2 linked regions of the Homo sapiens genome follow. The main gene of each other region encodes a partner of the protein of the gene in region 2 in a complex. Each region holds a gene or a part of one and is shown on either strand. Other genes may lie near its edges.

What was found.
Region 1: MED1 (region 2) and MED16 share a complex: the UniProt entries of both Homo sapiens proteins name them as parts of the mediator complex.

Annotation. Positions count from the first base shown.
Region 1 is NC_000019.10:869,172-872,983, forward strand, and holds part of MED16 (mediator of RNA polymerase II transcription subunit 16), read right to left. Parts: intron 2,948-3,812; coding exon 2,755-2,947; intron 2,083-2,754; coding exon 1,866-2,082; intron 1-1,865. UniProt on the Homo sapiens protein: Component of the Mediator complex, a coactivator involved in the regulated transcription of nearly all RNA polymerase II-dependent genes.
Region 2 is NC_000017.11:39,409,556-39,413,367, forward strand, and holds part of MED1 (mediator of RNA polymerase II transcription subunit 1), read right to left. Parts: intron 1,167-3,812; coding exon 1-1,166. UniProt on the Homo sapiens protein: Component of the Mediator complex, a coactivator involved in the regulated transcription of nearly all RNA polymerase II-dependent genes.

The sequences.
Region 1 (3,812 bases), on a different chromosome or scaffold from region 2:
TGCCTGGGGAGCTTGAGGCTTAGAGACCCAGTAAAGGGGACGGGGCCCACACAGGGACGAGGGTCGGTCCGCCACGTGCCCGGGGAGCCTGAGGTGCAGGGAAGGTGCTTGTGACGCTCCCATTTGAGGCTGGACAGAAGCAGGTACATGGGGACTTCCACACCACCTCTGCCCAGACACCCGGCCTGGAGGTGCCGGGACCTCTGAACGACAAGATTCTGGTGGCAAAAGCTGCCCTCGGTGGTGGGTGGGGGACCTGGGTCTGGGTGGGGGTGGGCCGGCTTATTCTGCTCTCATTAAATATCTGAAATTTTCCCAGTTTACAAGCCTCTGACGTAACCGTCCTCTCTTTCCATCAAGTCTTTTCCTGAAACCCAAACCCTCGTGTGTGACTCATTAGGAGGCCCCTCCCACAGTGAGCACGAGGAAGAAAATGCTGGAGGTCCTAGAGCCAAGCCAGGGCGCCTTCCCGGAGGTCCCGGAGCCAAGCCGGGGGTGCCTTCCCTGGAGGTCCTGGAGCCGAGCCGGGGCCTTCCCCGGAGCAGGGCTGCTGGAGGTTCACTTCATTTTCTTCCTTTTGCTCATCTGTGTTTTCTAAAATTCCAGCCCTGAGCAATCAGTGGCTCAGAGGGTTTGCATGTGCTCCTTGTCAAACGTGTGTCTGAAACAGGCTGGGGGTCTGACGGGCCTGGGTTCAAATCCTGACTCGGCCACTTCCTGACCGCGTGACCCCAGATGAGTGGGGTGACAAGGTCCCACCCTTTCCAGGCTGGGTTTCCTCACCGTGAAATGGGGTGACAAGGTCCCACCTCACAGGGCTGCTGGGCAGCCAGGGTCAGCTCAGCACACTTGGGTTGCCCAAACCCCGCACATTCCAGAGAAAGGCCAGCCCCGGGCCCTGCAAGGTGACCTCTTGCCCCCGGGAGATCCTCCTGATGAGGTGTCTGCTCAGCAGGGCCCTGGGCCATATGCTAAGGCGTCTCTCTCCATCCACAGAGGGATCTACGGCGAGGCCTGACATCCAGGGGGGCCAGAGACTAAGGGCAGAGGCTAAGGCAGGGCGCCCTGTACAGCGAGGCCAACACACAATCAGGAAACACCAAGGCAAGGCCGGGGCGGTGGCTCACACCTGTAATCCCAGCACTTTGGGAGGGCGAGGCAGGTGGATCACCTGAGGTCAGGAGTTCAAGACCAGCCTGGCCAACATTGCAAAACCGCCTCTATACCAAAAATACAAAAAATACCTAGGTGTGGTGGCTCATGCCTGTAATCCCAGCTACTGGGAAGGCTGAGGTAGGAGAATCATTTGAACCCGAGAGGCAGACGTTGCAGTGGGCCAAGACGGCACTACTGCACTCCAGCCTGGGCAACAGAGTGAGACCCTGTCGGGGAGACAAAAAAAAAAAAAAAAAGGGAGAGGGTGAATGGAAGGGCTGGGTGCCCGTGTTGGGGGTGGTTCGTGACACAGCAGAAGACACCACTAGGGGATGGAGTTAGGGGCACCTAGAAGGAAGCAGCAGTCATGGCCATGACTGGAGAACATGGAGGGAAGGAGCCGTATGGATTCGGGGGGGTCCTGGGGCAGGACATGGAGGGAGGGAGCCGTGTGGATTCGGGGGGACCCGGGGCAGGACATGGAGGGAGGGAGCCGTGTGGATTCGGGGGGTCCCGGGGCAGGACATGGAGGGAGGGAGCCGTGTGGATTCGGGGGGTCCCGGGCAGGACATGGAGGCGGGGAGCCGTGTGGATTCGGGGGGACCTGGGGCAGGACATGCAGGGAGGGAGCCGTGTGGATTCGGGGGTCCCGGGGCAGGACACGGAGGAAGGAGTCCTGTGTTTGGGGACCAATGCAGGGACACACGCACCTGGCGAGGCCGTCGAGCTGCAGGGTGGCAGCACTGCCAGGCAGCGTGGGCGCCCGGCCAAACTGCAGACGAAGGGGCTGCTTGGGCTGCAGGCGGCTAACCAGGCCGTCGCTGGCTGGCAGCCAGTCCAGGCTGGGGATAAGCAGCTGGCTGGGCAGCAGGCAGCATTCATCCACCAGCGCCTCGTCCGGCTCGCTCGCTGGGCCCTCATCGCGACCTGCGGAGAGAGGTGGCGGAAGTCTCAGCACCCCTGACTGGGGCACCGCCCGGCCACCCGGGACGTGCTGGGAGCCCCTCCAGTTCAGGAGCACCAGGTCAGGGCCCCAGCTCTGTCTGCCTGGCTGGGTGACCCCGGGGTTCTCTCACCAGGTCGGGGCCCCGGCTCTGCCTGCCTGGCTGGGTGACCCCAGAGTTCTCTCCCCGTCTCTGGCCTGTCATGAGACTCCCTCATTCACTTAAAAAGTATGTGGGAAGCACTGTGCCTTTTCCAGACACTGGGATGTAAGAATGACACAGCTCACCCTCCTCACATACACACAACCCGACAAGGAGAGACAGCAAACAGGTGCCTGGAAGTGGCTGCCATCCCAAAAGCACCCACACAGAGCATGGACCTGTGCTAGGAACTGGGGAAATAGCAGATATCAAGGCAGAGCCACTGCCACCTGCAGGGGCTTATGTTCTGGCGGGGGGCTCAGGCAGGACTTGTGTTTTGGTAGGGAGAGGGGAGCGGGGAGAGGGGAGAGGGGAGAGCGGGGAGAAGGGAGAGCGGGGAGAGGGGAGAGCGGGGAGAGGGGAGAGCGGGGAGAGGGGAGAGCGGGGAGCGGGGAGCGGGGAGAGGGGAGAGCGGGGAGCGGGGAGAGGGGAGGGGCGGGCGGGGGTGCCTCACAGCAGATCCAGAGCTTGGTGAGCAGGCGGAAGAGCAGGGACATGCTGTCCTGGGTATCCGAGGTGGCCGTATACACGGGCAGGCAGCTGGGCTTCAGAAGGCCCCAGATGCGGATGACCACCATCAATTCCCGAAGCATGCCCAGCGAGGTGCCGTCCCGCAGAAAGCTGTGGCCCGGCCTCAGCAGGGAACCCTGCCCGAAAGAGGCATCGGTGTGGCTGGGGCGGCGGGGGGCAGATGGCGATGGGATGAAGTGTCTTGGGGTCGGTGGAACCCCGACCGGGGGGCAATGGGCAGGGTCTGGGACATTTGTGGTGGTCAGGACTGGGGTGCTTCTGGCACCGAGTGGGTGGATGCCGGGGACGCTGCTCAGAGCCCTGCAGGGCCCAGGACAGCCCCATTTGCAGAGTCGTCCCATCCCTGAGAGTCCACAAGACTAAGACGAGGCTCTGGCTGAGGCCAATATCCCCACCTGCACGTGGAGGAGCAGCCGCCCCCTCCTACAGCTGCGGGCCCGGGCCCCTGGTGACTGTACTGGGAGCTGAGAGGACCAGGGAAGGGAGGCCCCAGGGGTGGCCCCTGGCAGCCTAAAGCCCCACAAAAAGAAGAGAGGGACTTCAAACCGTCCGTGATGGGCGCGGTGGAGAAGGGCGGGCCCCAGGGCAGGATGAAGCCGGGTGGGTGGGGCAGAAGAAATCACAGCTGGGGCAGGACAGAGTGTACCGGCGGGGGGGTGGGGGCGAGGTTGGAGCCCTGGTCAGGGGCGCACAAGCCGCAGAACTGAAGGTGGAGGTGTGGATGGAGACTTGATTTCAAGGCCGCCCACCCCAGGCGCAGGGAGCTGGGGAGGGTAAGGGGTGGGGGCAGCAGCAGCAGAAGCAAGGCGAACCGGCCTTCGTGTAGGGGTGGGGCTGAGAAGGAGCAGGGCCTGGGAGGCGGGGCTTTGAGAATGGGCAGGAAGGGTGTGGCCAAGGAAAGGCTTCTTACAGCAGAGGCTTCATGGAGAGGAGGGCTCCGAGGTGGGGGAGGGCTCCGAGGTGGGGCAGGGCTCCGAGGTG
Region 2 (3,812 bases):
TTTGGCTGCTTTCATCAAAATATTCTTCTCCAAAACCACTTTGGCTCTGGCTGTTCAATAAATCAGGATTGAAATCTACTCCATCATGAAAAAAATGATTGGTAGGAGAGTCACTACTGGGGCTTCCAGCAGCATCTGCAATAAGATCAGCTGGATCAGTGTATGGATTTTCATTATTGTTAGTTTGAAAGACATCAGAGTCAAACAGGGTACTCTGAGAATGCCCAGAGCTTGAAGAATCTCGAAGAGGGGTGCCAATGGCTGGGCAATCATCACTAGTGCTGGGAAGTTTAGAAGCTTCTTCTGCAATGTCTGAAAGGATGTCAGTTACATCTGGGCCAATGCTGTCTGAACTGGATAGTCGGACCATCCTTTGAATACTGGGTTGGGGGTGAGGTACTGGTTGTGGGTAAGTTGTTGGGGGAGTGCTACACTGGCTTGGAGCTGGAGTGATGTGTGGCGTATCCAGCGTGTCAGCTGTCATGTTGACATCAAAGATAGGGTTCTGTGAGTCAACATCCATTGAAAATAGCTCCCTCTGAAAGTCATCTTCAGTCTGGTGCTTTGGTTTCTCAGGTGGTAATCTTGATGACTTCTTTTTCTTGGTCTTGTTGCTCCCCGAGCATATTTCCATGCGGGGTGAGCCGGAAGAGGAGTTCTGCCTTTCTAAAGGGCTGCTTCCATAAAGGGTTGAGAAATCCTGGGCAGGATTATCTTTAAGAAGGTTCATGAGCATCGGGTGGTTCTTGGTGTTGCCGGCCATCGAAGAGACAGGTGGCGGCGTGTGATGAGGAGGGGTCGGACTCGAGCCAATGGTAGACCCCCCGTTCCCTGTGATTTGCAACAAACTGGTAAGAATTGGGTTCTGAGACACCTTGCTGAAGTCCTCCCCATGGCCCACCGACTCATGCCGATCTTTGATGCTCATGCTCATATTAAACAAGGTGGTAATGGGACCCCCCGGAAAGGTGTTGGTTGGTGTAGTGGTACCACTCATTGGGTTGTTGCCTGTGGTCATGCCATACCCTGGGCTGCTAGCCGGGGGCAGGTTCTTTTTCACCATGTCTTCAACTGTCTCTGCAATGAGGGACAGTGCTGGGGTGTCGGCTTGAATGGTTTCAGCTTTCCTCCGAATAGCCCTCATCGTCACAGGGATGGACATACATCTGCAAAATAAAGAAGAAAACAAAGTTAACATTGCAATAGCTGCTGAATGAGACCTGAGATTTAGATATAACATCAGAGTTTTGCAGTAAGCAGTTTTCAGGTAGGGCAAATAATCTGTAAGACAAAAATAGTTCTATCAAATACCAGAGCTTTGGGTAAATACATTCTAAAAATCTAACCCAACATAAAATTGTCAACCTCTTATGAATCACACAACAAAAGCAAACTATAAACAAGAGTCCAAATAATTGAATTTCAAACTTAACTAAAAGAAAATTGGTAATAATGGAACTCAGTAAGAAAATGCCTCCTTAGGGGCCGGGCACAGTGGCTCACGCCTGTAATCCCAGCACTTTGGGAGGCCAAGGCGGCTGGAACATGAGGTCAGGAGATCGACACCATCCTGGCCAACATGGTGAAACCCCGTCTCTACTAAAAATACAAAAATTAGCTGGGCGTGGTGGCGCGTGCCTGTAATCCCAGCTACTCGGGAGGTTGAGGCAGGAGAATTGCTTGAACAAGGGAGGCGGAGGTTGCATTGCACTGAGATCACACCACTGCACTCCAGCTTGGCAACAGAGTGAGACTCCGTCTCAAAAAAAAAAATGCCTCCTTAGGTCGGGCGCGGTGGCTCACTCCTGCAATCCCAGCACTTTGGAAGGCCGAGGAGGGTGGATCACTTCGGGTCAGGAGTTTGAGACCAGCCTGGCCAGCGGGGTGAAACCCTGTCTCTACTAAAAATACAAAAAATTAGCCAGCCGTGGCGGTGCACAGCTGTAATCCCAGCTACTCAGGAAGGGTAGACAGGAGAATCACTTGAACCCAGGAGGCAGAGATCGCAGCGAGCCAAGATCGTCCCATTGCACGCCAGCCTTGGTGACAGTGCAAGACTTCATTTCAAAGGAAAAAAGAAAATGTCGTCCTCTGGGGGGCTTCATATGGTAATTACAGGGATACATAATTTATTTTAATTAAGGAACCATTAGAAAAATCTCCGCCGGTCAGAGTGGCTCACGCCTGTAATCCCAGCACTTTGGGAGGCCGAGGCGGGTGGATCACAGGGTCAGGAGTTTTGAGACCAGCCTGGCCAACATAGTGAAACCCCATCTCTACTAAAAAAAAGAAAAAATACAAAAAATTAGCTGGGCATGGTGGCAGGTGCCTGTAATCCCAACTACTTGGGAGGCTGAGGCAGAATTGCTTGAACCCGGGAAGCAGAGGTTGCAGTGAGCTGAGATTGTGCCATGGCACTCCAGCCCAGGTGACAGTACAAGACTCCATCTCAAAAAAAAAAAAAAGAAAAGAAAAATCTCTTGACCCATTAAGTACTAAACCTTAATGACTTAGATCATCCCAAACCTACACTATTATAAAAAGTGCTATTTCTGTTATAAATCTTGTTTATTTTAAAGCAAAGCACTTTTTATTTTCCAGATAAATTTATATTCATAAACCTCAGTTTGCAAACGTTTTGCTCTAGAACATATGTCAGCAAATTTTTTTTTCTTTTTTTTTTTTTTTTTGAGACGGAGTTTTGCTCTTGTTGCCCAGGCTGGAGTGCAATGGCGCGATCTTGGCTCACTGCAACCTCCACCTCCCAGGTTCAAGTGATTCTCCTGCCTCAGCCTCTCGAGTAGCTGGGATTACAGCCATGCGCCATCACGCCCAGCTAATTCTGTATTTTTAGTAGAGACAGGGTTTCTCCATGTCAGTCAGGCTGGTCTCGAACTCCTGACCTCAGGCGATCCACCCACCTCCCAAAGTGCTGGGATTATAGGCGTGAGCCACCACACCCAGCCAGCAAATTTTTCTTTTTTTTTTTTTTTTTTTCTTTGAGACAGAGTCTCGCTCTGTTATCCAGGCTGGAGTGCAGTGGCATGATCTTGGCTTACCGCAACTTCCGCCTCCCAGGTTCAAGCAATTCTCTGCCTCAGCCTCCCAAGTAGCTGGGATTACAGAAGCCCGCCACCACGCCCAGCTAATTTTTGTATTTTTAGTAGAGATGGGGTTTCACCATCTTGGCCAGGCTGGTCTTGAACTCCTGACCTCGTGATTTACCCGCCTCAGCCTCCCAAAGTGCTAGGATTACAGGGGTGACCCCCGCACCCGGCCGCAAATTTTTCTTATAAGGCCATATAGTAATCCGTTAGGCTTTGTAGGTCTTGTTTCCTGTTCACCTACTCTGCAATATTAACTAGAAATCTGCCACAGACATGTAAATGAACAGCAGTGTTCCAATAAAATTTATTTACAAAAATAGGCTGCCAGACCCAGCTGTAGAAAAATCTCAAAAAATTACATATTAATGGTTCTGGGATGCATACTGGCTTAACTATCACGTAACAATTAAGTTGGCTTTTTGTTTGTTTTGAGATGGCATCTTGCTCTGTCTACCAGGCTGGAGTGGAGTGGCACAATCTCGGCTCACTGCAGCCTCCGCCTCCCAGGTTCAAGCAATTCTCCCGCCTCAGCCTCCTGAGTAGCTGGGATTATAGGCACCTGCCACCACACCTGGCTAATTTTTATATTTTTATTTATTTAGTTAGTTTGTTTGTTTTGAGACAGAATCTCACTCTATCACCCAGGCTAAAGAACAGTGGCGCAATCTTGGCTCACCGCAACCTCCGATTCCCAGGTTCAAGTGA